Linked DNA regions of Homo sapiens: regions 1, 2, 3 and 5 are each linked to region 4. Evidence: fine-mapped expression QTL. A gene starts in region 4. Each other region holds a variant in brackets. All regions are shown on one strand. Distances are between the middles of the regions. Region 1 overlaps WNT8B (Wnt family member 8B). Region 2 overlaps WNT8B (Wnt family member 8B). Region 3 has its middle 38 kb from the start of OLMALINC. Region 4 holds the start of SEC31B (SEC31 homolog B, COPII component). Region 5 overlaps SEC31B (SEC31 homolog B, COPII component).

Region 1 (5,000 bases), 42 kb before region 4:
AAATTAGCTGGGTGTGGTGGCACACGCCTGTAATCCCAGCTACTCAGGAGGCTGAGACAGGAGAATTGCTTGAACTCGGGAGGCGGAGGCTGCAGTGAGCCGAGATCATGCCACTGCACTCCAATCTGGGCAAGACAGAGCAAGACTCCGTCTCAAAAAACAAACAAACAGAAAAACACAAGTCCCGGGAGGTGGAGTCTGCAGTGAGCCGACATCACACCACTGTACTCAAGCCTGAGCAAGATACAGTGAGACTCTGTCTCCAAAAACAAAACAAAACAAACAACAAAAAAAACAAAAACACAAGTCACTTTATAGGAATGTTGTCCAAATAAGGCCTATAGTGTTGTTCCATGACAGGTGCTCAATTAAGTCTCATTCATTGATCAGTTGGGCTTGACCTGGATATCATACAAATCTTTGCATATTGTAGGATCTTCCAGGAAAGAATTCTCTAGAATCTCTGTCTATTACTCCCTGTAGTTCCGGCTTAGACTCCTTTCACAGGAAGACTCTTCACCCCAGCTATGGCAAAGCATTTTCTTTGTCACTCAATTTGCTTTGTTGTTTTGTTTTCTTTCCTGATAATTTCTGTCTTATGGAAAATGGGAACTAGCTCTGTCAGGCTTGGTAATGTCCAAAATCTTTGAATGTTATTCCTAACATAAAAAGTGCCTTTCTGAGTGGGAACAAGCTCAGGCCCCTTTCCCCAAAGCAAAGGGGCCTGGCTGACTCCTCTGACATGTCTTTAAGGATCAGAAATTCATGTCCAAACCTATAATGGCTTTGGAAATTGTGAATTCATTTAAGTCATTCTGAATTGTATTTTTGTGTTTTGCTGGTGCTACTACACCTGATCAAGCAGTGCTTCTTTTCAGTTGAATTAAGGTTGCCTACCAAGCTTTAAAAAGTAGGCCTTGGTGGCTGGGCGCGGTGGCTCACGCCTGTAATCCCAGCACTTTGGGAGGCCGAGGAGGGCAGATCACGAGGTCAGGAGATCGAGACCATCCTGGCAAACACAGTGAAACCCCATCTCTACTAAAAATACAAAAAAAAAAAAATCAAAAAAAAATTAGCTGGGCATGGTGGCAGGTGCCTGTAGTCCCAGCTACTCGGGAGGCTGAGGCAGGAGAATGGTGTGAACCTGGGAGGCAGAGGTTGCAGTAAGCCGAGATGGCACCACTCTAGCTTGGGTGACAGAGTGAGACTCCGTCTAAAAAAAAAAATAGGCCTTAGTTTTGATAGACTTCATAGTATTTTTGATTTTCTAAAATTCTATTACAACTCGTTTAGAATCTTTTTCATCTCATATGGCAGCCTCTTAGTTTGTTAATACTGGTTTTCAAAAACTACTCACATTTTTGGTGTTGTATGTGTTTTTTATGAAGAAAGTCAGCCAAGCTCTTTTGGCCTGACAAGAAACTTTCTTGGTCTATTTCATTTCCAATCCCCTTTCTGGTGATGTTCAGCATCTTATTGGCCTTCAGAATTGCAGGGGTACACCAGCATGGAACAATACATAATGATTCCCGTATTACTTTCTCACATTATAATGGAAAAACAAAGATAATAGATAATAGATTCTGATTTTCAAATGCCTATACTGAAGTCATTCTCCAAGTCTTTAGCCCTGCAGATCATGTGTATATGTACATATATATTTAACTTTTTATTTTTAGATAATTATGGAGTTGCAAGACATGTACAGGGAAGAAACGTACAGGGAAGTCCCATGTACACTTGCCCCAACCTCCCCCAGTGTGAACATCTTACAACGTTAGTACGATATCCATGAAGCTTATTCAGACTTCACCATTTTTACATGCACTTGTGTGTACATGTACTCATGTATGTGGCTTTATGCAATTTTGTCATGTGTAGCCTTGTATAACCACAGTAAAGACATTTGGCCATTCCCCCAAGACTTTCTCATGTTACTCTTTACAGCCACATCCATCCCCCATCCCAAATCCTTGGCAACCACTGATCTGTCCTCCAGCTCTATAATTATATAATTTTTATTATTTCACTATTGTTATGTAAATAGAATCATGCAGTATGTATCCTTCTGAGACTGACTTTAATCACTCCGTAACTTCCTTGAGGTTCATCCAAGTTGTTGCATGTATCAACGTATCATTCCTTTTTATTGCTGAGTAATATTCCATGGTATGAATGTACCACAGTTTTTTATTTTTTATTCATTTATTTATTTATTTTATTTTATTTTTGAGTTGGAGTCTCGGTCTGTTACCCAGGCTGGAGTGCAGTGGCGCGATCTTGGCTCACTGCAAGCTCCATTCCCAGGTTCACGCCATTCTCCTGCCTTAGCCTCCTGAGTAGCTGGAACTACA[A/G]GTGCCCACCACCACGCCTGGCTAATTTTTTGTATTTTTAGTAGAGACAGGGTTTCACCATGTTAGCCAGGATGGTCTCGATCTCCTGACCTCATGATCTGCCTGCCTTGGCCTCCCAAAGTGCTAGGATTACAGGCGTGAGCCACCGCACCCGGCCACAGTTTTTTAAACTACCCTTTGAAGGACATTGGGTAGTTTCCAATTTTTGACTATTATTAATAAAGTGGCTATGAGCATCCAGGTACAAATTTCTGAGTGAAAGTAAGTCTTTATTTCTCTGGGATAAATGCCCAAGAGTGCAATTGCTAAGTCATATGACAAGTTCATTTTTAGTTTTTTTTTGTTTTTTTTTTGGGACAGAATATCACTCTGTTGCTCAGGCTGGAGTGCAGTGGTGCAATCTCAGCTCATTGCAGCCTCTGCCTCCCAGGTTCAAGCGATTCTTGTGCCTCAGCCACCTGAGTAGCTGGCATTACAGGCGCATACCACCATGCCTAGCTATTTTTTTTTTTTTTTTTTAGTAGAGACGGGGTTTTGCCATGATGATGCCTAGGCTGGTCTTGAACTCCTGGATTCAGGTGATCCACCTGCCTCAGCCTCCCAAAGTGCTGGGATTATGGGCGTGAGCCACTGTGCCCAGCCCATTTTTAGTTTTAAAAGGGGCAGCCAAACCATTTTTCCAAATCGCATTACTTATTTTTAGAGTTTTATTATGACTCAATCCCTAGAGAGATATTCCACTGTTTGTTTACCTCTTCCTAATTAGAGAAGTATCCTTCTAACGTCCCACGGAGTCAGATGAATGTGGATTCAAATCCTGCTTCACTCACTTATTAGCTGGGTGAGCCTGAACACACGTTTAACTTTTCTGGAGTCTCAGATTTCCTGTCTGCAAAATAGAGATAATAATGCCTGAGACAGTAAGGATTTAACAAGATCAACATGTAAAATACCGAGAGTAGAGCATAAGGAACATAGTCAGGAGTTAATGCTAGTTCTCTCCCCCACTTCATGGCAGAATAATCAGCAACCATCACTATCAGGTATATGGTACTGGAAATTTTACCTGGCTTTAACAATGCAAGGAAATGATACTACTTTTATTCATGTTTTTTCTACTAAGTTTTATGTGTGTGTGTGTTTTTTTTTTTTTGTTTTGAAACAGAATTTTGCTCTGCCGCCCAGGCTGGAGTGCAGTGGCGCAATCTCGGCTCACTGCAACCTCCACCTCCCAGGTTCAAGTGATTCTCATGCCTCAGCCTCCTGAGTAGCTGGGACTACAGGCGCCTGCCACCATGCCCCGCTAATTTTTGTATTTTTAGCAGAGACGGGGTTTCACTATGTTTGGCCATGCTGGTCTCAAACTCCCGACCTCAAGTGATCCACCTGCTTCAGCCTCCCAAAGTGCTGGGAATACAGGCATGAGCCACCCCACCTGGCTGTAAATCATCTTTAGTAGGTTTGTTATGCACAGTGTTTCCTGGGTAAAACTAGTTTCCCTTTCTTCCTATTAATGACATGTGCTGAAGTAATTCTTACCACTCTTGGAAGCAGAAACAAGTTGGTGTCTCTGCATTATATTCTGTTTTTGTTTTTTTTTTCCCTTATAGGTCGGTGAACAATTTCCTGATGACTGGTCCAAAGGTAAGAACAAATTCCATTAATTGATATGGATTTCACTAATCTTAGCCTGTTGACTAAAGATGATAAATGCAGATTTTTCATTATATCCACATATTTTATTATGCTGTATACATTACAGATAGAAAGATTGAGACCCAGAGGGTGTTAGGGACACATCTAAAACCACATAGCAAACCACTGTCAGCGCCAAGATAAGAACGCAGGAGCACTGAATTTATGGCTAGAATTTCCAGAGCCATAAAAGTCAACAGCCTTTTATAGGTGTCAGGCTGCAAAGTCACACATCCTTCTCAGTGCCCCGTGGTGGGATGCAGTTTCCCATGTTTAAAATGCTGGAATTGTACTACATGATCTTTACATTCATGGGCATTTTCAGTTCCAAAATGTTGTTTTCTAAGATGGTCATGTGATGAGAACTCCTTAAATTTCATGAATTAGGTGATTTGGGCTCATTTTGGAGAGACAGGATAGTATAGTGAAGAAAGGTGAATAAAGGATAATAGGGACTAGAGTCTGATAAAACTGAGTTTCATTTCTAGTTCTGCCATTTGCTAGCTCTGGGACTTTGGGGAAATTACTTTAGCTCACTCCCTGGGCCTCAGTTTCCTAATCTATAATATAGTGCCTATTTCACAAGTTATTTGTGATGTCAAATGAGACAGCATATTTAAAGGCTTACTCCATTATTTTGGAGGGATGGGAGAGTGAGCAGGAAGAGGGCTGTTTGGTCAGTTTAGGGTAAATGCCTCCTAAGTTCAGTCTGAATTTTTACCCCTATGTCCCTACAGGCTTACCTGATTTACTCCAGCAGTGTGGCAGCTGGTGCCCAGAGTGGTATTGAAGAATGCAAGTATCAGTTTGCCTGGGACCGCTGGAACTGCCCTGAGAGAGCCCTGCAGCTGTCCAGCCATGGTGGGCTTCGCAGTGGTAAGAAAAACCTCAGCCACAGCTCCCTGGACCCTCTGGTCACAGGTTAGAGCCCCAGGGATAGCCCCTTGCCTC
Region 2 (6,026 bases), 34 kb before region 4:
GCCCGAGTTCCGCGAGGTGGGCGCGCACCTGAAGGAGAAGTACCACGCAGCACTCAAGGTGGACCTGCTGCAGGGTGCTGGCAACAGCGCGGCCGGCCGCGGCGCCATCGCCGACACCTTTCGCTCCATCTCTACCCGGGAGCTGGTGCACCTGGAGGACTCCCCGGACTACTGCCTGGAGAACAAAACGCTAGGGCTGCTGGGCACCGAAGGCCGAGAGTGCCTAAGGCGCGGGCGGGCCCTGGGTCGCTGGGAACGCCGCAGCTGCCGCCGGCTCTGCGGGGACTGCGGGCTGGCGGTGGAGGAGCGCCGGGCCGAGACCGTGTCCAGCTGCAACTGCAAGTTCCACTGGTGCTGCGCAGTCCGCTGCGAGCAGTGCCGCCGGAGGGTCACCAAGTACTTCTGTAGCCGCGCAGAGCGGCCGCGGGGGGGCGCTGCGCACAAACCCGGGAGAAAACCCTAAGGGTTTCCTCTGCCCCCTCCTTTTCCCACTGGTTCTTGGCTTCCTTTAGAGACCCCGGTAATTGTGGAACCTAGGGAATGGGGAACCCGCTCTCCCAGACCTAGGGATCCTGAGAGGGAGAGACTGCAATTTCTCCAAAGCTTGCCACTTTCCAGCCTGTTTCCCCAATTCCTCTGTGCTCTCCTAGAGCTCTGTCTGAATCCTCGCAGCCACACCTAGGTCTGAGAACTCAGGCTTTGAGTTACTGATCTTCCTTGGATTAGGAGAACAGGTGTTCCTCCTCCCCTCTCCTAGCAGCCCTAATGTCTGACCTAGCCTATCAAGCCTTAGGCGCTGGAAGAACCCTTCTCAGACACGCAGGACCCAGGTAAAGTCAAAGCTTTGCCCTTTTGCCCACTGTCTGCTACCAGGGCTCACCCACTGCTGCACCTCTCTTCTGCACAGCTCCTCCCCTGCTACCTGCTGAGCCAGATTCCCCAGGAATCTTGAATGCTTTCTCTCCTCTTCTCCCTTTCCTTTCCCAGAAAAACTGAGGAAACTGGCCCCGGAAAAGCATGTCTTTGGGGTTGGTTCCTAGAGGCAGAGGTTGAAGATGGAAGAGGGAGCTCTGGAGTGCTAACTTGAACACCAAGGGTGCTACTCATCCCTATGGTATCATATCATGAATGGACTTTACTAGTGGGGCAATGACTTTCCTAGACAATAACCCGAGGGACTCCAGATACATACCCCGAAGGTCTAGGAAATACGTTAAGGGCAGATTACAGTCATTTCCTACCCTTTAAAGGTAACTTCTCCCTTCTCCTGACCTACTTCCTCCTAGCAACCAACTTTACCTCTTCTTCTCCAAAGGATCTTTGTTCCTCTGAGCCAAGACTGAGGTAAATAAAGCCACTTTCCTCTTCAGATCCTGGTCTGCACCTCTAGAGGCAGGTCCTAAGAAGGAGAAACTGAGACCCTTCCTTCTCACTAACCTGGTTCTCAAACAGGCAGGATTCAGAGCACTGGATATCTTCCTTCAATGAGTAAACTTCCTGCAATGAAACTGTTGCTTAGTAGGAAGTTCAGCACCTTGAACCTTAATTTATTGCAGTCATTGTGATATGTGCTCTTTTTCTAGGTACTGCACTTATTCTTGAGGATATTCGGGTGGGCTGTGGTAACAGATACAACCTGTAGGCTCTCTCCTCCCTCCCATCTTGGCAGGATACCATCCTCCCTAAAGCCTCACTTCCCTGGTGGCCCAAGCAGTTATCTGGATTGAGGCTAAGCTGCCAAGGATTAGTAAATCATCTATTTAAATCTTCTAATACATTCACTCAAGAGCCATGAGCTTGCTGCTTGTGGTACTTGAGTCTTCTGGTTTTATTCTCAGAGAGTACAGCAGGGACTTGTTTATGAAACAGAGCAAGACCTTGGGGAGGGAAGAACCAATCCCTGACAGACCCTCTGTAGCCCAAGGGGCTTCCCAGCCAGCTTCCTTGCCCTAGGACAGTCCCAGGTCTGGGGCTGGGCAGCTCTTCTAGAGCAGAACTGGTCAGATGCTAGACGACCTCAACCTTCCTCTCCCAGAGTAGGAAAAGCAGTGTGGCTGGCTCCAGGCAACAAAAGCCAAGACTCTAGGGGTTCACCTGTAAGAGTCAAGGGTTCCCGTATTCCAAACTAAGGCAATGGCCAGGTCAGATCCCAAACCCTTGGCCTCACCCACACACCTTCTGGTCTTACCAACACTTACTGAGGAGAGAGTTTCCCCTTCCTGACCGGGGATACACTTCCTTTCAGGTGTTCTTAGTGCTTCATTTCCAGCTTTCTCAGCAAAAGGCCCTTCACGCCTTCCCTCTGCTTTTATCTGAACCTCCTGAATCTCCCAACTCACCTTTTCTCCTTAATCAAGAAGCAGCATATACTAACCTACCTGTCCCACTTTGCAGAATTACTTTATAATGTACACGAAGAAAGTTTGGCAAGGCAGCTAGAAAATTTAAAAGCACAATGTTGTAAAGTAAAGCTACATTCTCCAGGTCTCTTAGCATAAAAGCAGAACTATTGTGCTTCATATTTGGTAACTCCAGGTCAGCACTCTAAATACGTCATGCCGCCAGAACATTATTTCATAGGTTATTGTTTTATACCCCCAAATGGATACCAGATTCATTCCAGTTCTACCAAGAAAACATGACTGAGATGCCTTGGATCTGTATTGCTTTTCCCTTCCTTTTGCAATATCCACTTGTTCATTTGTTCATTCAACAAACACCAGAGTAGAGATAGTGGTGAACAACCACCATTGCTGCATCACGGAGTTTAAGTTCTCATCTTACACTCAATTGCCAGGGC[C/T]GTGGTCCCTTTACAAAGTAGACAACTCCAGAACTGGTGCTTGGGAAGACATCTTTGAGGTCAGCCAGTCAAACCTTTTGTGTTACAGATTTAAACTGATGCTGAGAAAGATGACTGGCTTCTTCCCCCAACTAGTAAGTTACTGTGGGGAGAGTGCAGAGCACAGGCCCCTTCCACCTCTTGTGTGCTCTTCAGGAGCCCATCTGTCTCAGCCAGAAGACAGAAACAGAGGGAGGCCCTGAGAAGTGACAAGGACATTGGTTGGGGTGGGCAAAACACTGTCTCCTTCCTGTCCCTGGCCTGTGAGCCTAAACACAGGCAGAGCTTTTTCTTTTTGAAAAGAATCGCAGCCTCAACTGGCCTTAGCAGCAGGTTAGGGCAAAGACAGAGACGGGGTCGTCTTCGGCGCTGGTGGTGCTGGCGGTGGTGGGAGGGGAGGGCAGGCCAGGGCACTCGCCTATTGTAGGTCTGGATTGGATGCTTCCACTCATTCATTTCCTTTTAATTAACCCGCATTCCTGGAGGAGAAATATTTATGTTGGCTCCCATAGAGGCAATCCTCAGACTGGAAAGAAGGGGGAAGAAAGCCTGTCTTAGCAAAACAATATCTCTAAAGAGCTCAAGAAGAGAAAATAGGAGAACAAAATGCCATTAAAATAGCCTTCTACCCCCACTGGAGTCAATGAAAACTTCATTTCACATGCTAATCCGCCACTCCGCCCCCTTGTCTTCTCACAACACCTTTTCCGAAAGTGTTTGGGAAAAGTCTTCGCAGTCAGTACACAGCTCCCTGCAGCTCAGACTTCTCCTTGTGTTAGTTCAGGGCCCCAAGTGGGGCTCTCGCTCCAGCAGCGGCTTTTTTCTCCCCCACTTTAATTTAAACAAAGACTTCGGAGTTCATCAACCTCCCACTGAAATTCACAGCTGCTGAACAAACTAATCCCCTCTCCCGGCCTTTCTTCCCTTCAATGGGCTCTTGGCTTCAAAGACACTTTGGGAAAGGACTTTGCTAGGGCTCACACTGCTTCATCAATAGAAGTTAGTGCAAGTATTATCTGAAGAGCAAGTGGCTTTACAAACAAATACTGCCTAACAATCCCTCCCTCCCAAACACACACACATCTAGCCCGCAGACATGATGGGATCTACAACAGGATTAGGGCTAGCATCCCCTGGCTTCACACCCAGTCCCTTTGTATAGCTGAGCTCAGCCCTGAAGTGGGGTAGGGAAAACCCTGGAACTGAACACCAGGCACGGATGAAGGGAGACAATCCCCCCACCCTCAACACACCCAGCAGAGTGACCACAAATGCTGCAAGGAGAGAACCTAATTCAGTGGGAATGGACACCTTCCTTTAACTTTCTTGATTTATCTCTCCCTAAGCCTCTCCCCTGCCTTACTAGGGTGCAGGAAGCAAGAATAAAGAGGACTAGAAAGGTAATGGCAAAATAGAACCCAGAGGAGGCAATGACTGGGAGATGACAGAGGAAACCAAATCGAAGCAGCTTTATTGCACCATTAAGTACATCACTGCATCAAAGACAGTGCCACAAATGCAAATCCAATCGGAGAAGGTAGCCCTGAGACATGTGGTGGCTGCGAGGGAGAAGGACCCCCAACCCTTGAGGAGCAGCGCTGGAAGAGAATCATTCCTTAATATGGCTCCAATTCCAGAACTGGGCTTTATCATCACAGAAGGAATGGCCTTGGGCTAAGGCTCCAACATAGGTGGAGTCAAGGGCAGTTCCCCATAGGCTGTGGTTCCCCTGCTCCTGTCTCACAGCCTAAGACAGCTTCCAGCAAAAGGCAGTTCATCCCTTTCACCTTCCATCCAACCTAGCCCACCCTTAATAATGCCGGCAGATGAGAAATTCCATTTTAACAGCGCCAAAGTTTCCTCTCTTGGTTCTGCTCAGCACCCATCCCTCACGTCCATGAGTTGTTCAAAGGGTGAACAGCAGTCAGCTCTACCCCAGACCCTGGGCTACAGAGAAATACGGACCTGGAAATACCAAGTCAGAGGCAGGGAAAAGGTAAGGGCAGGCTCATAAACCACAGAAGGGAGAAACAAAAGACCCACATGATGGGTCACAGCAGAGGTAGGCTTAAAAGTAACAATCCTGTTCACCCTCTCAGAAGCCACTTAAATAGAAGATCCCTGGGGGAGAAGATATCCTGCCCCAGGTCCTTACAGAGTGTAGTATTAGGGAGAGTGAAGAACTGATTCTATGCCCTGCCTCCAGGCCTGAGAGTGTCTTGGACAGATCCTAGAAGGCCAGACATAAAGGAGTAAAAAGCAGGCACTCAGCTGGTTTGGAGCCAAGCCTACAGCATCACATACCTGGCAGCAAGGAAAAGAGTCGGGAAAAAGAAACAGAATCTGTTGCAGAAGTCCCCTCTTCTGCAGGGAGGAGTTATGTAACAGCAGAAGTGGCCTCCTAGCAAGAGAGGCTGCCTGGTTTAGACCAGCAGCTTATGAGCGATGATGAGGACAGCCTTCAGGATAGGCATGAAGCTGGACACCTCGCTGAAGCTGCTACAGCCCGCCACCTGGGCATGCACTGCAAGGCCCTGCTCAAAGCTTCCTGCATCCACACATCGGGCAACCTCATGGAGCCCAGCCACGACATGAGGTGAGAGCTGTGGAGGGAATGACCCTTAGGTTAGTGAGCCCAACCCAGCTCCTACCCTGGCAGCATGGAAGGGATAAGGGAAGACTTAAGTTCTGGGGCCCAGTCCAGGCAAGATGCACGTATTTTGTGGGGAACCCAGGTCAGTGACACCTATGGGAAGAAAAGACACTGGGCTTCCTTTGGCCATGGTGATGGTGGAAGTGTAGGAGGCAGTGGGAGCACAGCTAGCTGTACTTACTGTCCCCTCACAGAGCTTCTCATATAGATACTCCAGACGCTGGGCTGCCTCTTCCAGCTTCCTTTTTGTCTTCTGCAGGGAAAGAAATGGATTCCAACCCCAGCCCCTAAGTCTAACACCACACAGGGCCATAAAGAATCACAGCATATTAGGCCGGGCATGGTGGCTCACGCCTGTAATCCCAGCACCTTGGGAGGCCAAGGCGGGTGGATCATGAGGTCAGGAGATGGAGACCATCCTGGCTGACACGGTGAAACCCCGTCTCCATTAAAAATACAAAAAATTAGCCGGGTATGGAGGTGGGCACCTGTAGTCCCAGCTACTCGGGAGGCTGAGGCGGGAGAATGGCTTGA
Region 3 (6,183 bases), 110 kb before region 4:
TCATATCCAGCCAAACTAAGCTTCATAAGTGAAGGAGAAATAAAATCCTTTACAGACAAGCAAATGCTGAGAGATTTTGTCACCACCAGGCCTGCCCTAAAAGAGCTCCTGAATGAAGCACTAAACATGGAAAGGAACAACCGGTACCAGCCACTGCAAAAACATGTCAAATGGTAAAGACCATTGAGGCTAGGAAGAAACTGCATCAACTAACGAGCAAAATAACCAGCTAACATCATAATGACAGGATCAAATTCACACATAATAATATTAACCTTAAATGTAAATGGGCTAAATGCCCCAATTAAAAGACACAGACTGGCAAATTGAATAAAGAGTCAAGACTCATCAGTGTGCTGTATTCAGGAAACCCATCTCACGTGCAGAGACACACATAGGCTCAAAATAAAGGGATGGAGGAAGATCTACCAAGCAAATGGAAAACAAAAAAAGGCAGGGGTTGCAATCCCAGTCTCTGACAAAGCAGACTTTAAACCAACAAAGATCAAAAGAGACAAAGAAGGCCATTACATAATGGTAAAGGGATCAATTCAACAAGAAGAGCTAACTATCCTAAACATATATGCACCCAACACAGGAGCACCCAGATTCATAAAGCAAGTCCTTAGAGACCTACAAAGAGACTTAGACTCCCACACAATAATAATGGGAGACTTTAACACCCCACTGTCAACATTAGACAGATCAACGAGACAGAAAGTTAACAAGGATATCCAGGAATTGAACTCAGCTCTGCACCAAGCATACCTAATAGACATCTACAGAACTCTCCACCCCAAATCAACAGAATATACATTCTTTTCAGCACCACACCACACCTATTCCAAAACTGACCACATAGTTGGAAGTAAAGCACTCCTCAGCAAATGTAAAAGAACAGAAATTATAACAAACTGTCTCTCAGACCACAGTGCAATCAAACTAGAACTCAGGATTAAGAAACTCACTCAAAACCGCTCAAGTACATGGAAACTGAACAACCTGCTCCTGAATGACTACTGGGTATATAACAAAATGAAGGCAGAAATAAAGATGTTATTTGAAACCAATGAGAACAAAGACACAACATACCAGAATCTCTGGGACACATTCAAAGCAGTGTGTAGAGGGAAATTTATAGCACTAAATGCCCACAAGAGAAAGCAGGAAAGATCTAAAATTGACACCCTAACATCACAATTAAAAGAACTAGAGAAGCAAGAGCAAACACATTCAAAAGCTGGCAGAAGGCAACAAATAACTAAGATCAGAGCAGAACTGAAGGAAATAGAGACACAAAAAACCCTTCAAAAAATCAATGAGTCCAGGAGCTGGTTTTTTGAAAAGATCAACAAAATTGATAGACCACTAGCAAGACTAATAAAGAAGAAAAGAGAGAAGAATCAAATAGACGCAATAAAAAAATGATAGAGGGGATATCACCACCGATCCCACAGAAATACAAACTACCATCAGAGAATACTATAAACACCTCTATGCAAATAAACTAGAAAATCTAGAAGAAATGGATAAATTCCTCGACACATACACCCTCCCAAGACTAAACCAGGAAGAAGTTGAATCTCTGAATAGACCAATAACAGGCTCTGAAATTGAGGCAATAATTAATAACTTACCAACCAAAAAGAGTCCAGGACCAGATGGATTCACAGCCAAATTCTACCAGAGATACAAGGAGGAGCTGGTACCATTCCTTCTGAAACTATTCCAATCAATAGAAAAAGAGGGAATCCTCCCTAACTCATTTTATGAGGCCAGCATCATCCTGATACCAAAGCCTGGCAGAGACACAACAAAAAAAGAGAATTTTAGACCAATATCCCTGATGAACATCGATGCAAAAATCCTCAACAAAATACTGGCAAACCAAATCCAGCAGCACATCAAAAAGCTTATCCACCATGATCAAGTGGGCTTCATCCCTGGGATGCAAGGCTGGTTCAAGATACGCAAATCAATAAATATAATCCATCATATAAACAGAACCAACGACAAAAACTACATGATTATCTCAATAGATGCAGAAGACCTTTGACAAAATTCAACAACGCTTCATGCTAAAAACTCTCAATAAATTAGGTATTGATGGGACGTATCTCAAAATAATAAGAGCTATCTATGACAAACCCACAGCCAATATCATACTGAATGGAGAAAAACTGGAAGCATTCCTTTTGAAATCTGGCACAAGACAGGGATGCCCTCTCTCACCACTCCTAGTCAACATAGTGTTGGAAGTTCTGGCCAGGGCAATCAGGCAGGAGAAGGAAATAAAGGGTATTCAATTAGGAAAAGAGGAAGTCAAATTGTCCCTGTTTGCAGATGACATGATTGTATATCTAGAAAACCCCATTGTCTCAGCCCAAAATCTCCTTAAGCTGATAGGCAACTTCAGCAAAGTCTCAGGATACAAAATCAATGTGCGAAAATCACAAGCATTCCTATACGCCAATAACAGACAAACAGAGAGCCAAATCATGAGTGAACTCCCATTCACAACTGCTTCAAAGAGAATAAAATACCTAGGAACCCAACTTACAAGGGAAGTGAAGGACCTCTTCAAGGAGAACTACAAACCACTGCTCAATGACATAAAAGAGGATACAAACAAATGGAAGAAAATTCCATGCTCATGAGTAGGAAGAATCAATATTGTGAAAATGGCCATACTGCCCAAGGTAACTTATAGATTCAATGCCATCCCCATCAAGCTACCATGACTTTCTTCACAGAATTGGAAAAAACTACTTTAAAGTTCATATGGAACCAAAAAAGGGGCCGGATTACCAAGTCAATCCTAAGCCAAAAGCACAAAGCTGGAGGCATCATGCTACCTGACTTCAAACTATACTACAAGGCTACAGTAACCAAAACAGCATGGTACTGGTACCAAAACAGCATGGTACTGGTACCAAAACAGAGATACAGATCAATGGAACAGAACAGAGCCCTCAGCAATAATGCCACATATCTATAACCATGTGATCTTTGACAAACCTGACAAAAACAAGAAATGGGGAAAGGATTCCCTATTTAATAAATGGTGCTGGGAAAACTGGCTAGCCATATGTAGAAAGCTGAAACTGGATCCTTTCCTTACATCTTATACAAAAATTAATTGAAGATGGATTAAAGACTTAAATGTTAGACCTAAAACCATAAAAACCCTAGAAGAAAACCTAGGCAATACTATTTAGGAAAAAGGCATGGGCAAGGACTTCATGTCTAAAACACCAAAAGCAATGGCAACAAAAGCCAAAATTGACAAATGGGATCTAATTAAACTCAAGAGCTTCTGCACACCAAAAGAAACTACCATCAGAGTGAACAGGCAACCTACAGAATGGGAGAAAATTTTTGCAATCTACTCATGTGACAAAGGGCTAATATCCAGAATCTACAATGAACTCAAACAAATTTACAAGAAAAAAACAAAAAACCCCATCAACAAGTGGGCGAAGGATATGAACAGACACTTCTCAAAAGAAGACATTTACACAGCC[G/A]AAAGACACATGACAAAATGCTCATCATCACTGGCCATCAGAGAAATGCAAATCAAAACCACAATGAGATACCATCTCACACCAGTTAGAATGGTGATCATTAAAAAGTCAGGAAACAACAGGTGCTGGAGAGGATGTGGAGAAATAGGAACACTTCTACACTGTTGGTGGGACTGTAAACTAGTTCAACCATTGTGGAAGTCAGTGTGGCAATTCCTCAGGGATCTAGAACTAGAAATGCCATTCGACTCAGCCATCCCATTACTGGGTATATACCCAAAGGATTATAAATCATGCTGCTATAAAGACACACGCACACGTATGTTTATTGCAGCACTATTCACAATAGCAAAGACTTGGAACCAACCCAAATGTCCAACAATGATAGATTGGACTAAGAAAATGTGGCACATATACACCATGGAATATTATGCAGCCATAAAAAATCATGAGTTCATGTCCTTTGTAGGGACATGGATGAAGCTGGAAACCGTTATTCTCAGCAAACTATTGCAAGGACAAAAAACCAAACACCACATGTTCTCACTCATAGGTGGGAATTGAACAATGAGAACACATGGACACAGGAAAGGGAACATCACACACCCGGGCCTGTTGTGGGGTGGGGGGAGGGGGGAGGGATAGCATTAGGAGAAATACCTAATGTAAATGACGAGTTAATGGGTGCAGCACACCAACATGGCACATGTATACATATGTAACAAACCTGCATGTTATGCACATGTACCCTAGAACTTAAAGTATAATAATAATAATAATAATAAAGAAATCTCTATTTCTTTCTCCCCAGCCTGGTAATTAAATGAATAATTCAATAAAAGGAAAATATATTGGTCAAGCTTTTTGTGACGTCAGTAAAAGGCATACTTTCCAACCTTTTGTATTCATCCAAACAAAGCTAATGCACTTTTAAAAATCCTATACTTGTTTTTTTTCAGACCATCTCGCTCTGTCGCCCAGGCTGGAGTGCAGTGGTGCAACCTCGGCTTACTGCAACCTCCGCCTCCTGGGTTCAAGTGACTCTCATGCCTCAGCCTCCTGAGTAGCTGGGATTACAGGCACCTGCCACCATGCCAGGTTTGTTTGTATTTTTAGTAGAGACAGGGTTTCACTATGTTGGCCAGGCTGGTCTCAAACTCCTGACCTCAAGTGATCCGCCCGCCTCAACCTCTCAAAGTGTTGGGATTACAGACATGAGCCACTGCGTCCGGCCTAAAAATCCTATATTTGCAATCTATGTGACCACAACTGATTTAAACCCAGATGAAGATAAGGTATCAAAATAAACCTCAGGCAGACTGAGCTGTGCCACAATTTTAACACTAACTGATGAAGGCAGGATGCTTCTCCTGCTCAGCTGAGCATCCTGTCTCCCAAACTCAAAAAACTAAAATCCTGGAATCTTAGAACTGGAAGTGACCCTTGTCTTTGTGACTGTCCTTGAGCTCTGCTACCCATGAGTTTTGCCTCCAAAATTGTCCCTTTTATATGAAGTAGGACTCTGCGCAGCCAGAATTTTTTGTGTTACCTCTTTGTAATCAGATAGGGCACAACTGGCTGAGATTGTTGTCAGTATGTGGGTGTGGCTGGAAAAAAATACCCTCTGTGACCAATAGTTCTTTCTTCACTGTACACAGCTTTCATACTGTTTCTCATGAATAAAACATATTCACATGACATTTTGTACTTTTCCTTCGTTATTCAGTTTATGCAGATAGCCATTTCCTTTGGATAGTAAGAGAAGTGTCAGCTCTGTGTGGTAAACGATTGAGAAAAAAAGAGTCATGAAGAAGCTACAGAACTTGCTTAAGAGCACATGGTGGGACCCTCTTAGAAATGGGAAGAAAAGGCAGGGAAGAAAAGACCTGAGGTCAGGAGTTCAAGACCAGCCTGGACAACATGGTGAAACCCTGTCTCTACTAAAAATACAAAAAAAATTCTTTTTTGGGGCGTGGTGGCACGTGCCTGTAACCCCAGCTACTCGGGAGGCTGAGGTATGAGAATCACTTGAACCCAGGAGGCAGAGGTTACAGTGAGATCGTGCCATTGCACCCCAGCCTAGGCGATGAGTAAACTCCATCTCAAAAAAGCAAAACAAACCAAAACAAAACAAAAAAAGAAATGGGAAGAAAGCAAAAGTCCTGGCCAGGCATGGTAGGTCACACCTATAATACCAGCACTTTGAAGGACTGAGGCAGGAGGATCACTTGAGCACAGGAATTCAAGACCAGCCTGGGCAACATAGAGAGAACCCATCTCTAAATACATAAAACTTTTTTTTTTTTTTTGAGATAGAGTCTTGCTTTTGTTGCCCAGGATGGAGTGCAGTGGCGTGATCTCGGCTCACTGCAACCTCTGCCTCCCAGGTTCAAGCGATTCTCCTGTCTCAGCCTCTCGAGTACCTGGGACTACAGGCACACGCCACCACGCCCAGCTATTTTTTTATTTTTAGTAGAGATGAGGTTTCACCACATTGGCCAGGATGGTCTCAATCTCTTGATCTCATGATCCTCCTGCCTCGGCCTCCCAAACTGCTGGGATTATAGGTGTGAGCCACCGCACCCAGCCCATAAAACATTTTTTAAAAACAAAAGCAAGAAAGAAAAAAGCAAAAGTCCTGGACTCTGGGTCTATAAAC
Region 4 (6,183 bases):
CTAATATCTCCTTGCTTATGCTGTGAGCCACCCTATCTTTCTATGATCTGAGAGCTTTCTCTGATGTTCAATAAATAATTCTAGATACTAAGTTTCCCCTCAACTTATGTACTCCCAGTGGATCCTAATTCACAGTGTCACCATACCTGTGGCCAGATACAAAGGGTATTGGCTGGCTGGGCTCCATGCCTGGACAGCTGGCCGCTCAAGTTCCTTCAGCTTCATGGTCTATCCTGTAGGTGGCAGAAAACTGACATGGCCCTCAGCCCACTGAAAATAGAAACCAGCAAACTTAACAGCCAGATCCAGGGAGCATCTGCGGACAAGAGTTCTTGTTTGTCTTTCTCCATCACAAGATAGGGCATTTCAGGGCAACACAGAGTGACAAATACATGACCATCTGCAGATCTAAAGATAGTTCATTCACCCAATTACTGAAATGTAATGCTTTAAACCTCAAATGATACTCAACCACAATGGCTACCACAGGTCCAGTGGTGATAACCATCAAACCAGACAATCTCTCAGTGATGTTTGTCCATTTCCTTGGCTTTAAATAGCACCCATATGCTGATGATCCCCAAATTTATATCACCATCACAAATCTCTCCTCTAAGCTCCAAGTTCTTATATGCAATTTCTTTTCGTTTTTTAGACCAAGTCTTGCTCTGTCACCCAGGCTGGAGTGCAGTGACACGATCTCAGCTCACTGCAACCCCTGCCTCCTGGGTTCAAGTGATTCTCCTGCCTCAGCCTCCCGAGTGGCTGGGATAACAGGCATGTGCCACCATGCCTGGCTAATTTTTGTATTTTTAGTAGAGACGTAGTTTTACCGTGTTGGCCAGGCTGGTCTCGAACTCCTGACCTCAAGTGATCAGCTGCTTATACGCAATTTCCAATCAAATATTTCACTTGGATATAGTAGATACTTAATGGGGGAGGGAACTCCCATTTTAGTCTGTCTAAAATGGAGTTCTCTATTCTACCATCTTTTATGGTCTTTTTTTATTTGTTTTTTTCAGAAAGGAGCAAAGTCACAATCTCTTCTGTTCTTCCTCCAGTTTTTTTCATCTTGGTAAATGGTTCCACTATCCACCCAATTGCTCAACCCAGAAGCCTGAAAATCCCTCTTGATCCCTCCTTCTCCCTCATTCTCTTCTAATCCATCATTTAGTCTCCTTGATTTAACCTCCAAAATATATCTCAATCTGTCTACTTTTCTCTATTTTCGCTGCCAACAGCCTTTTTGATTGTATCATCTCTCACCTGGAGTACTCCAACAACCTCCCAACTAGCTATCCCCTTTCTACTCAAGCCATTACCCAATTCGTTCTTTACACAGCAGCAGGAGTGAACTTCTAAAATAAAAAATGATTTTGGCATTCCATGCTTAAAATCTTTCAATGATTTCTATCACACACAGAATAAAATTCAAACTTCTTTGAGCCCTGCCCAAAGGCTCCAGCCTACCACTTCAACTTCATCTTTTAATACTTTTCTCATTCATTGTGCTTCAGCCACACTAGCCTTTAATTTCCTGACATTTTCCTTCCTTAGAGCCTTTACAAATGCTGTTCCCTATACTTTGAATGCTCTTCCCTTCACTTTCGACATGACTGGCTCCTTATATCTTTCTGGGCTCAGCTTACTTCCCCAAATAAGTGAACTACCCAATCACAAAAAGCCTCAGTTTTTTTCTTCCTAGTAATTTATAATTACATATTTATTTATATTGACATTGTCAGTCTCTTCCACTAATATGCAAGCTCCATGAGAGCTGACACTGTGTCGGCTTTTGTTCACCATGTTGTAACTAGTTTCCAAACGAATGTCTGGCATATGGTAAAAGCTCGAATGTGGACATCCATTTTAACTCTGTGGTTTCTGATCTAATTCCAATGTATATTCAAGGTCCCATCCCAACAGGCTAGCAAACAGGTAGAAATGATTTTTAAAAATTACACTGAACTTGAGGAGAAAGCTTGGGACCTACTGTGACCTGCTTGAGTAAGCTATAGTCAGATCAGTCTCACCTACAAAAACAGGAGATAGTATTACTTAATCTCTAAGGTACTTTCTAGCGTGAAGAAAGTTTAAGCCTGCCCATTAAGCCAAGATTTCCAAAGCACCTTTAAACACTTGTGGCTACTATCACGTATTCTGTGACCAGCTCAACACTCTACTATACAGTCACCAGTGCCACCTGCTGGTCACAGCCATTTTAATGTTTCTGGGAAAAGATTCCCTAACAACAAAAATAGGAGCTGCGATAAGCAGCTGTGCATTTGATGTGCATATCTCAGTTAATTCTCTCAGTGGTCTTATCAGGTAAGTACTATGATTATCCCCATTTTCTAGAGATGACAACTGGCTAGGCCGGGATGTGAACCCCCATCAGCATCAAGAGCCCGTATTTCTAACCACTGTACTAGTCGCAAGTAAACCCTAGAAAGTGTTTTAATCGCTGACAGTCTAGGAACTGGGAAAATGGGCTCTTAATTCACATTGTTAAGAGGCATCTATTCACAAAAAAAGGGCCCCCGCTGGGGTCAGATTGGCCATGGGGGCGTGAGGGGGAGATGACCAATGAAATGCTCGACAGACCTGCCGTGCAGGAGGGCACCAGCTACCCTTGGCAGTCCAGTCCCTAGGGAGGACGGTCAGCACAGCCTCTTTCCCGCTGTCGCCGAAGCGCGGCGCGCCAGGGTCAGCAATGACAGACCTTCCCGCCCAGCCCAAACGCAGCGACACCGGACGGCCTCGGCTGGGCCAGGTCAGGACCAAGGCGGATGGGAAGGCGCAAGGCAGCAGTGAACAGGGAGACCCTCATCCGGCTGGGGGTTCCCGTGCGGCAGGGACAGTAGAGCCGGATCCAATTCAAGGGTAGACGTAGTGGAGGCCCCCGAGGCCCGGACCCGCGGGCAGGGCAGGCGCGGGCCGGGGGCTCCGCAGCAAGCGGGCTCCCCTCCGCGCTCTGCCGAGAAAGGAGCAGTGCTCCGGGTCCCCAGCGCAATCTCTGCTACCAGGGACCCCAGACCGGCGGGGCGAACCAACCTGTGCGGAAGACCCCGGACAAGGGTCAGGCGCGGCGGCCGGAGCCGCTCCTCTGGCAGGGCTCTCGCGCGGAGCCGGGCGCTGTGGACGGCGGCTGCGGAGGACCAAAGCGGCGCGGACCCCGGCAGGGCACCGTCGGAAACACGCTCCGCGGGCGCCGAGCCCGAGACACTGACAGACCCACGGAGAACGTTTCCAAACAGGATTATAGCTTTTAACCGGGCCTCCCTCACCTACCCTGTGATTGCGCAGCGGGTCAGATCTGGACCAGTAAGTTCTGGTCTATTCAGTTTGAGCCAGGCTCTAGGGCCAGTCTCTGAAAAGGGAAAATACTAACTCATTATCTATGTATTGAAGCGGGAGAAGACCCGGCCCTGGCCCCAGGAGCCCTCAGTGGAATCCATTTAGTTGAAAACGTAAAAAGCAATCGAGGCTGTAAATGGCAGTGAGTGTTGCACTGCAGCCCAGCAGAAACTGGTGCCCAAAACTTGGTTGAATTAAGGGCTATAAGTGTATGGAGGGTGAGACTACAGGGCCAGGGGCTTCCTGAAATATTTGAGGAACATAGGAGGGGTGTTATCCTCTGGAGCTGCAAGAACACAGGTGATATTCCAGCCGATAATGTATTTTTTATGTTGAAGAAATTGTGCCACTTCCAAATAAAAATGTTCTGTAGACAGGTCGGGTGCAGTGGCTCACACCTGTAATCCCAGCACTTTGGGAGGCCAAGGTGGGCATATCACCAAAGGTCAGGAGTTCGAGACCAGCCTGGCCAACATGGTGAAACTCCGTCGCTACCAAAAATATAAAAATTAGCCGGGCATGGTGGTGCAGGCCTGTAGTCCCAGCTACTCACGAGGCTGAGGCATGAGAATAGCTTGAACCCGGGAGGTGGAGGTTGCAGTGAGCTGAGATCACGCCACTGCACTCCAGCCTGGGTGACAGAGACTCCATCTCAAAAAAAAAAAAAAAATTCTGTAGGCAGCTTTAAATCTTAGAAACTTATGCTTAACGCATGAATTCTCTGTATTCCTGCCTGATACACCTCCAAAGATGGGGGGCCAGTTATCATGATGGAGCCCAACTCATTGTGACACGACTCCAGTTCCCTTCCATGTGGATCTGGCAATTTTGAAGTTAGACAGAAGGTAATTCAGTGCATTATCTGTGCCTAGCCCACGCTTCCTACCTACTAAGTACTCAAGTATTTCCTGAACTTCTTAGCTGGCACAACAGGGAATGAAGCCTGAGGAAAAGTAAACAGGGTTAAAAACTAAACCTGAGAGAAGGAGGCAGAAGAGTTACTGATGGAATACTCCTAAAGAAATTTGAACCAGAAGCTTAAGTCACAGTTTCGGGTAGGACATGATTAAGCCAAATTAAAAGTGCACTTTCTCAACTCACACCTCTTAAGAATTCTTGCTGGGAGCAGTGGCTCATGCCTGTAATCCTAGCACTTTGGGAGGCTGAGGCGGGCAGATCACTCGAGGTCAGGAGTTCAAGACCAGCCTGACCAATATGGTGAAACTACATCTCTACCAAAAAATACCGAAAAAATTGGCTGGGCGTGGTGGCATGTGCCTGTAATCCCAGCTACTCGGGAGGCTGAGGCATGAGAATCACTTGAACCTGGGAGGCAGAGGTTGCAGTGAGCTGAGATCATGCCACTGCACTCCAGCCTGGGTGACAGAGTGAGACCATGTCTCAAAAAAAAAAAAAAAAAATTCTTTTTGGCCTGGCATAGTGGCCCACACCCATAATCCCAACACTTTGGGAGACCAAGGCAGGTGGATTGCTTGAGCCCACAAGTTTAAGACCAGCCTGGGCAACATGGTGAAACCCTGTCTCTACAAAAAATACAAAAATTAGCCAGGTGTGTTGGTGCATCCCTGTGGTCCCAGCTGCTTGGGAGGCTACAGTGAGAGGACCGCTTGGGCCTGGGAGGTAGAGGCTGCAGTGAGCTGTGATCACACCACTACACTGCAGCCTGGGCAACAGCGTGAGACCCTGTCTCAATAGTAATAATGATAAAGAATTATTTTCACTTTGTATTATAACTGCTGGTCTCCTATGTAATATTTGAAGGTGATTACTTTGTCTTGCTCAGTTTTATATCTCCAGGGCTTATCAGTGTTTGATACATATTAGACACACAGGTGTTTGTTAAGGAAATGATTATCAAATGCTATAGAGAATGAAGACAGATAAAAAGCCAGTGGGGACCTTCAAAGAATAGCATTCCACAAGTATCCACTCCCTGACCTCACAAAAGGTCTCTCACTGCCTGCACAACTAAGACTCCACATCTAATTTGAATGAACTTGCTTCTTTTGGTCACATAAAATGTATGCTTTTCTATGGGACAGGTTTTCCGGCAATATACTGTAACTTAAGAATATGTCCCCAAAGGAATATGGGTTGGTTCACTTAAAAATAGACATGAGGGCTGGGTACAGTGGCTCCTGCCTGTATTCCCAGTGCTTTAGGAAGCTGAGGCAGGATTGCTTGAGGCCAGGAGTTTGAGCCAGCCTGGGCAACATAGCAAGATCCCACCTCAACAAAAAATAAGAAACTTAGGTTCGTACATCCCAGTAATCCTAGCTACTAGGGAGGTTGAGTAAGGAGGATCCCTTGAGCCCAGGGGTTTGAGGCTACAGAGAGCTATGATTGTGCTACTGCACTTCCACCTGGGGAACAGAGGAAGATCCTATCTCTAAATAAAACAAAAAACAGATGAATGATAGACTCTCAAAAACATAGTTTTTCTCTAAGACTGTTATAGGAGTGTGGATGAGTCATCAAAAGTAATCAAAGCTATGAACATGTTCAGTAGTAACTCACTGACTGTCCTCCAATTCATAAATACAGGTAATGTCAACTTATTAAGAAGCTATGATTCAGAAGCTGCTTTGGAATAAGGAATATTCTTATAACGGAAATAAGATCAGAGGCAGTCGCAGCCTTAGGCAGACAGGACAAAAACACTTATCAGTCCTGTAATATACTTGAAACACGTTAGAGCACATTTTTTTCCAAGTAACCACTATTATTAAGGAGTTTTTTTTGTTTTTTTTTGTTTTGAGACGGTCTGGCTCTGTCGCCCAGGCTGGAGTGCAGTGCCACCATCTC
Region 5 (6,183 bases), 27 kb before region 4:
TGGGAAGTGAGGAGACTGGTGTATGTGTGTAAGAGGGAAAGAGAAAGAAGAGGGTTCTGAGGAAAGAAGAGTAAGTGGGAGGAGGGCGGGGACAGTCTGAGAAGGGGAAGGACTGACTGAATCCTCCAAGGAATTAGAACGTGGTCATTGGTGAATGTGCGAGGGAGTGGGTAGGGAAAGATGCATTGACCTTGTTCCTCTGGAGGTTTCCCCTGGGGGCTGGGGCTTCTTTCCAGGAATCTTGAGGTCCTATAGAATAAAAAGATAGAGGTTTTTCGGCGCATAGTGAAAAACACTGGAAGTTTTTTATCTGAAGGCTGGAAGCATTCTTTGAGTTGGAGTTCACCATACCTCCCTCTGCAGACCATCTACACTCCCAGCCACCCTCCACCCAACAGGGCCCTAGCCCTCTGACTTGAGGAAAGACTCCCAAAGTAGTGAGAGGAGCAGGGGAGGCAATAACCCAGAAGAGGGATCCATGGAAGGAAGACTGACCTGGGTGAGGAGTCAAGATGCCAGTGGTTGGGAGGACACTAGAGCATGGGGCACCTGGGTCCCCTGGAAGGTATGGCACAGGGAAGCTTGCAGGAGGGGCTGGGGTGTGGGAGACCATGCGGCCGGGACCTAGTGGTCTCAGAGGAAGCAGAGGGAACAGTCTAGGAGTCTCAGGCAGGGAGGTAGAGCCAGGTCGCATGATGCCTGGGCATGCCATGGGTAGAGGGGAACCAGGAAGAGGCCATGTCCCAGGGAATCCCACCGGGTTAGGAACTTGCACCCTTTGCCCTCCTAATAGCTGTGGCTGAGATGAAGCTGAAGCAGAACAGAAATAGGTCATTTGTCACTAAACTTCATTTCAGGAGCAACTCAGAGCATATCAGGGAGAAACAGGATTGCAATAAAAAAATAATAAATGATTAATACATGTATATGGAAATCTATAATTTACAAAATACTTTTAACTATATTCCTTATTTGACCTTCAAAACAATCCCATAGCATTGAAATAAGCAACACAACACTTTGGTATATTGCCAAAGGTACGAAGCCAGTGATAGCATTAGGAATTCAGACTTCAACTTCCAAGCTCCTCTCACTAGACAGACATACAGCTTCCCAAATCCATGCTGGCCATGCCAATTGCTTTCCTGAGACCTCTGTGCTCTGCCCAGATAGATCTTCAGTGACTCACTCACCAGGCCTTACCCCAGGGCTCAAAGGCAAAGGCTGGATGGCCTGGGGCCCAGGTGCCCTGTAGTCACTTATATTCTGTGTCCTGGGACCCTGATAAGGGCTAGGATGGGAAGGTGCCAAGGGCATCGCTGGTGATGACTGAGGGGTGAAAACCCTTGGCCTTGGAGATGGAGTTGGGACCTATGAAGAGAAAAAAACATCAGCTCTTGGAAAGGAAAGAGAAAGGTAAATAATAGAAAACAGAAAAATAATAGGGAAAATTAATGAAACAAAAACTAGTTCTTTGAGGAAAAAAATCAATAAAATTGATAAACATCTAAAAACTGATAAAGATAAAAAGCAAGAAGATATAAATCATCATCAGAGATGAAACAGGGACTATTACAACAGACCCTGAAGCCATTAAAAATATAAACGAATACTACAGAAAACTTTACATTCATAAATCTGACAACTTATCAGAAATGGACCCATTCCTCAAGAACCATAAACTACCAAAACTCAGTCACAATGAAAGAAGATCTGGATAGTCCTATAACCATTAAAGAAATTGAGTTTGTAATTTAAAAGCTCCCAAAAAAGAAATCTCCAGGCCTAGATGGTTTCACTGGAGAATTTCACCAGTCAAAGAATTAATGCAAAGTTTATGTAATCTCTTCCAGAAAATAGAAGGAACACTTCCTAACTAATTTCATGAGGCCAGTATTACCCTGATGCCAGCAACAGAAAAAGATAGCAGAAAATAAAACTACACATCAATATTTCTCATGAACTTAGACACAAAAATCCTCAACAAAATTTTAGCAAATCAAATAATGTATATAAAAAATAATATTCCACAAGAAAGTGGGATTGATTCCAGGTCATACAAAGCTGATCCAAGATATTTAAAAACCAATCAATTTAATCCCCTATACCAACAAACTAAAGAATGAAAATAACATGATGACAGAAATGATGCAGAAAAAACATTTGACAAAATTCAACACCGATTCATGATCTAGTACACAAGGTGTTATGGTCTGAATATGCTCCCCAAAGTCATGTGTTGAAAACTGAATCCTCAATGCAACAGTGTTGGGAAAGTGGGACTTTTTGTAAGTGTTTAGGTCATGAGGGCTCTGCCCTCATTAATGGATTAATGCCACTACAAAAATGACTTGCAGGAGTGGGTTTGCTTTCTCTTGCACATCTGCTATCTGCCATGTGAGAACACAGCAGCAAGGCACCATCTTGCAACTAGAGGGTGGAACCGTACCTGCTGGAACCATACCTGCTGGTGCCTTGATCTTGGACTCCAGAACCATAAGAAATAAATTTCTGTTCTTTATAAATTTCCCAGTCTGTGGTATTCTGTTATAGTGGCACAAAATGGATTAAGACACAAGGAATAGAGGGAAATGTCCTTGGTCTCATAAAGAGCATCTGTGAAAAACCTAAAGCTAACATCATGCTTAATGCTGAAATATTGAATGTTTTTCCTCTAAGACTGGAAACAAGGCAA[G/GA]AACATTCATGTTCACTATTTATTTATTTTTTTTGAGACAGAGTTTCGCTCTTGGTGCCCAGGCTGGAGTGCAATGGCACAATCTCAGCTCACTGCAACCTCCACCTCCCGGGTTCAAGCGACTCTCCAGCCTTGCCTCCTGAGTAGCTGGGATTACAGGCATGCGCCACCATGCCCGGTTAATTTTATATTTTTAGTAGAGATGGGGTCTCACCATGTTGGCCAGGCTGGTCTCAACTCCTGACCTTAGGTGATCCACCCACCTCAGTTTCCCAAAGTGCTGGGATTACAGGTATGAGCCACAGCGCCTGGCTTATGTTCACTATTCTTATTTAACAGAGACTGGAAGTCCTAGTCACTACAATAAGGCATAAGAAAGAAATTAAATGCATATAGATTGAAAAGAAAGAAAACTATCTATTTGCAGATTTGTAGACAGCATGACTGTCTATTAGAAAACCCCATGGAATCCACAAAAAACTTCTATAACTATTCAGGAAAGTCACAGGATATAACCAGATCAACACATAAAAATCAACTGCATTTCTATATACTCACAATGAACAAGTGGAAACCAAGAAATTTGATTTTAAACTGCTGAAGAAAAAAATTAAATACTTAGTAGGCATGAGCTGACAGGTGATATAAAAAATTAAATACTTAAGTATGAATTGGACAAAATATGTACAGGATTGGTGTGACAAAAATTATAAAACGCTGATGGAGAAACATGCCACATTCATGGACTGAAAGACTGAACCTAGTAAAGATGTCAGTTAGGAACTTGTATTTGAATACTCATAGCAGCTTTACTCATAATACCCCAAATTGGAAACTATCCGAATGTCCTTCAAAGTTTGAATGGCTAAAAAAATTAAAACTGGGGCCGGGCGCGGTGGCTCATGCCTATAATCCCAGCGCTTTGGGAGGCCGAGGCGGGCGGATCACGAGGTCGGGAGATCAAGACCATCCTGGCTAACATGGTGAAACCCCATCTCCACTAAAAATACAAAAAATTATCCGGGCGTGGTGGCGGGCGCCTGTAGTACAAGCTACTCGGGAGGCTGAGGCAGGAGAATGGCGTGAACCTGGGAGGCAGAGCTTGCAGTGAGCCAAGATCGCGCCACTGCACTCCAGCCTGGGCAACAAAGCAAGACTCCATCTCAAAAAAAAAAAAAATTAAAACCATGGTACATTCACACCATGGAATACTACTCTGCAATAAGAATGAGTGAACTACTGGTACACAGAACAACTTGAATGAACCTCAAAGAAGTTATGCTAAGGGAGAAAAGCCAATCTCAAAAGGATACATATTGCCATGATTCTATTTAAGTAACAATCGTTAAATAACAATGATAGAGCTGGAGAACATATTGGTGAAGCCAAGGATGAGGGAGGCAGAATAAGTGCAGCTATAAAAGAGGTAACACAAGAGAGTCTTGTGGTGATGGTAAAATTGAGTATCTTGATTTTGGTGGTGGTTACACACCACAATGTGACAAAACTGCATAAACACACATAAACACACACCTAACAATATGTAAAACTGGTGGAGACTGAATCTGAAATCTGAATCCATGGATTGTACTAATGGCAATTTCTTGGTTTTGATAGCGTACTGTGGTTGTGTGAGATGCCGACACGGGGCGGGGTGTTGTTGGGATGCAGGAGACATCCCAGTACATTTCTTTGCCACCTCCTGTGAATCTATGGTTATTTTTAAATGAAAAGAGACGGGGAGAGGGAGAGAGAGAGGAGAGGAGGGGAAGGGGAAAAGGGGAGACAAGGGAGGGAAGAAAGGGAGGGAGGAAAGGGAGGGAAAAAAAGAAAAGGAATTAGGGTGGGGATTGAAGGTGGGACAAGATGAGCCATCAGAGCTTCTGCCTGGTAACTGTATCCAAATCTCCCTGGATTCTGTTCTCCGGCAGCTCTAGCAAGCTTCTGGCCTCACATCTTAACAGTATCCAATCCCCCCGGGCACTTTGGCCAGAACCTCTTTCCTCTCCCTCAGTACCCCCAACCACACACACACCTCTCCAAACTATCAGCAATTCTGTCAGTTCTATCTACTAAGTACTAAGTATTTCAAATCCAACCTCACTGGCTAGCTTTAGTTATTTCATGTCTTCATCATCCCTTACTATAGCCTAACTCCCTCCAGCCTGGCCCTTCCTAACATACAGCTAATTATGTCACTCTTCCTAAAACTGTTCAATAGCTCCTCCCTGTCAAGTTTAAGTTCTTTAGCACAGAATGCTAGGTCCTTAGTGATCTAACTCCTACCTGTTGTTCCAGCTTCATCTAACTTCACAGCCACAAACACCTGTGTTGCAGCCCCAATTAAATAATAGTAATTCTCAAAAGGCTTCGGCTTACTCTTGCTTCAGTGCCTTTGTACATGCTATTCTCTGTGCCTGAAACAGTCTTCACTTGCTCATCCCTTTGCCTAAAACCTTTTAATCTTTGAAACTCTGATCAAACATCCGACTTGTTCTGAAACACTCCCTGGACTGCCCCCACAACCTCACCATACAGAGTAAACTACTTTCATCTGTGTGATCTTATAGCCCCTTGCCATACCCCAATCATGGTATTTATGAATTTTACTGTAGCTATTTTTTTTTTTTTTTTTTTGAGACGGAGTCTCGCTCCGTTGCCAGGCTGGAGTGCAGTGGTATGATCTGGGCTCACTTCAACCTCCACCTCCCAGGTTCAAGTGATACTCCTGCCTCAGCCTCCCGAGTAGCTGGGACTACAGGCACGTGCCACCATGCCCAGATCATTATTTTGTATTTTCAGTAGAGATGGGGTTTCACCATGTTGGCTAGGATGGTCTCGAACTCCAAACCTCATGATCTGCCCGCTTTGGCCTCCCAAAGTGCTGGGATTACAGGCGTGAGCCACCACGCCAGGCCTACTGTAGCTATTTTTTACATATCTATCTTTCGACTACACTATGAGCTACTTGAGGGCAAGTATCACAATTTTTGCACCTTTATGTCCTAAGAGCCTAGTAGTTCAATAAACAGTTATTTATTATAAAAAGAACTGAATCTATGTTCTATGGAAGTTGGGAATTTTCATCAGTTTTGTTCACAATATATTCCAAGTGCCCAGAACCATGCTTGGCACGTATTATTGAATGAACAAATGAATGAACAAACGAGGTCTTACCTGGTGAGAAGGCTGGGATCCCAATCTGTAAGATGATGTCTCTTTAGAGTGGAGGGTAGCTCCCACAACAATCCGGGGGAAGGGGAAAGGGGGAGACTGTTGGCCCAAGACAGCAGAACCTTGAGCATGAAAAAGCCGATCTCTTAGCTGCTGAACTGGTGGCTATAAGTTTTAATGAGGAAGAGCTGTGTCAAGAAATTAAAACAATCAAGGCCCCAGGTAGCAGTCAAATTTCAGCTGACCCTCTACACCAAGCTTGTCCAACCTGTGTTATTTTGTTGTTGTTGTTGTTCTGTTCTGTTTTGTTTTGT

Evidence for each region. PIP is the estimated chance that this variant, and not a neighbour inherited with it, causes the effect. A credible set is the group of variants that fine-mapping cannot tell apart.
Region 1: its variant is the best candidate, but not a certain one, in a credible set for the expression of SEC31B in tibial artery (GTEx, PIP 0.63).
Region 2: its variant is the best candidate, but not a certain one, in a credible set for the expression of SEC31B in blood mononuclear cells (TOPMed, PIP 0.63).
Region 3: its variant is the best candidate, but not a certain one, in a credible set for the expression of SEC31B in blood mononuclear cells (TOPMed, PIP 0.67).
Region 5: its variant is the best candidate, but not a certain one, in a credible set for the expression of SEC31B in whole blood (TOPMed, PIP 0.77).

What each region holds. Positions count from the first base shown.
Region 1 is chr10:100,475,088-100,480,087 of GRCh38, forward strand. WNT8B (Wnt family member 8B) reads left to right here. Exons shown (of 6, transcript NM_003393.4): 2 at 3,965-3,998; 3 at 4,787-4,925. Among named protein-coding and RNA genes, the nearest start is that of WNT8B, 15 kb to the left of the region's middle. The variant A/G (reference allele first, on the strand shown) is at 2,355.
Region 2 is chr10:100,482,354-100,488,379 of GRCh38, forward strand. WNT8B (Wnt family member 8B) reads left to right here. Exons shown (of 6, transcript NM_003393.4): 6 at 1-1,391. The coding sequence ends at 463. SEC31B (SEC31 homolog B, COPII component) reads right to left here. Exons shown (of 26, transcript NM_015490.4): 25 at 5,674-5,745; 26 at 4,294-5,442. The coding sequence ends at 5,263. Among named protein-coding and RNA genes, the nearest start is that of WNT8B, 22 kb to the left of the region's middle. RefSeq lists enhancers at 1-586, 2,607-3,383, 2,732-4,224, 3,384-4,159. The variant C/T (reference allele first, on the strand shown) is at 2,801.
Region 3 is chr10:100,408,198-100,414,380 of GRCh38, forward strand. No RefSeq gene overlaps it. Among named protein-coding and RNA genes, the nearest start is that of OLMALINC, 38 kb to the left of the region's middle. The variant G/A (reference allele first, on the strand shown) is at 3,525.
Region 4 is chr10:100,516,728-100,522,910 of GRCh38, forward strand. It overlaps SEC31B (SEC31 homolog B, COPII component), which reads right to left and starts at 3,134. Exons shown (of 26, transcript NM_015490.4): 1 at 3,055-3,134; 2 at 147-270. The coding sequence starts at 225.
Region 5 is chr10:100,489,513-100,495,695 of GRCh38, forward strand. It overlaps SEC31B (SEC31 homolog B, COPII component), which reads right to left. Exons shown (of 26, transcript NM_015490.4): 19 at 5,873-6,034; 20 at 1,194-1,371; 21 at 496-810; 22 at 191-249. Among named protein-coding and RNA genes, the nearest start is that of SEC31B, 27 kb to the right of the region's middle. The variant G/GA (reference allele first, on the strand shown) is at 2,696.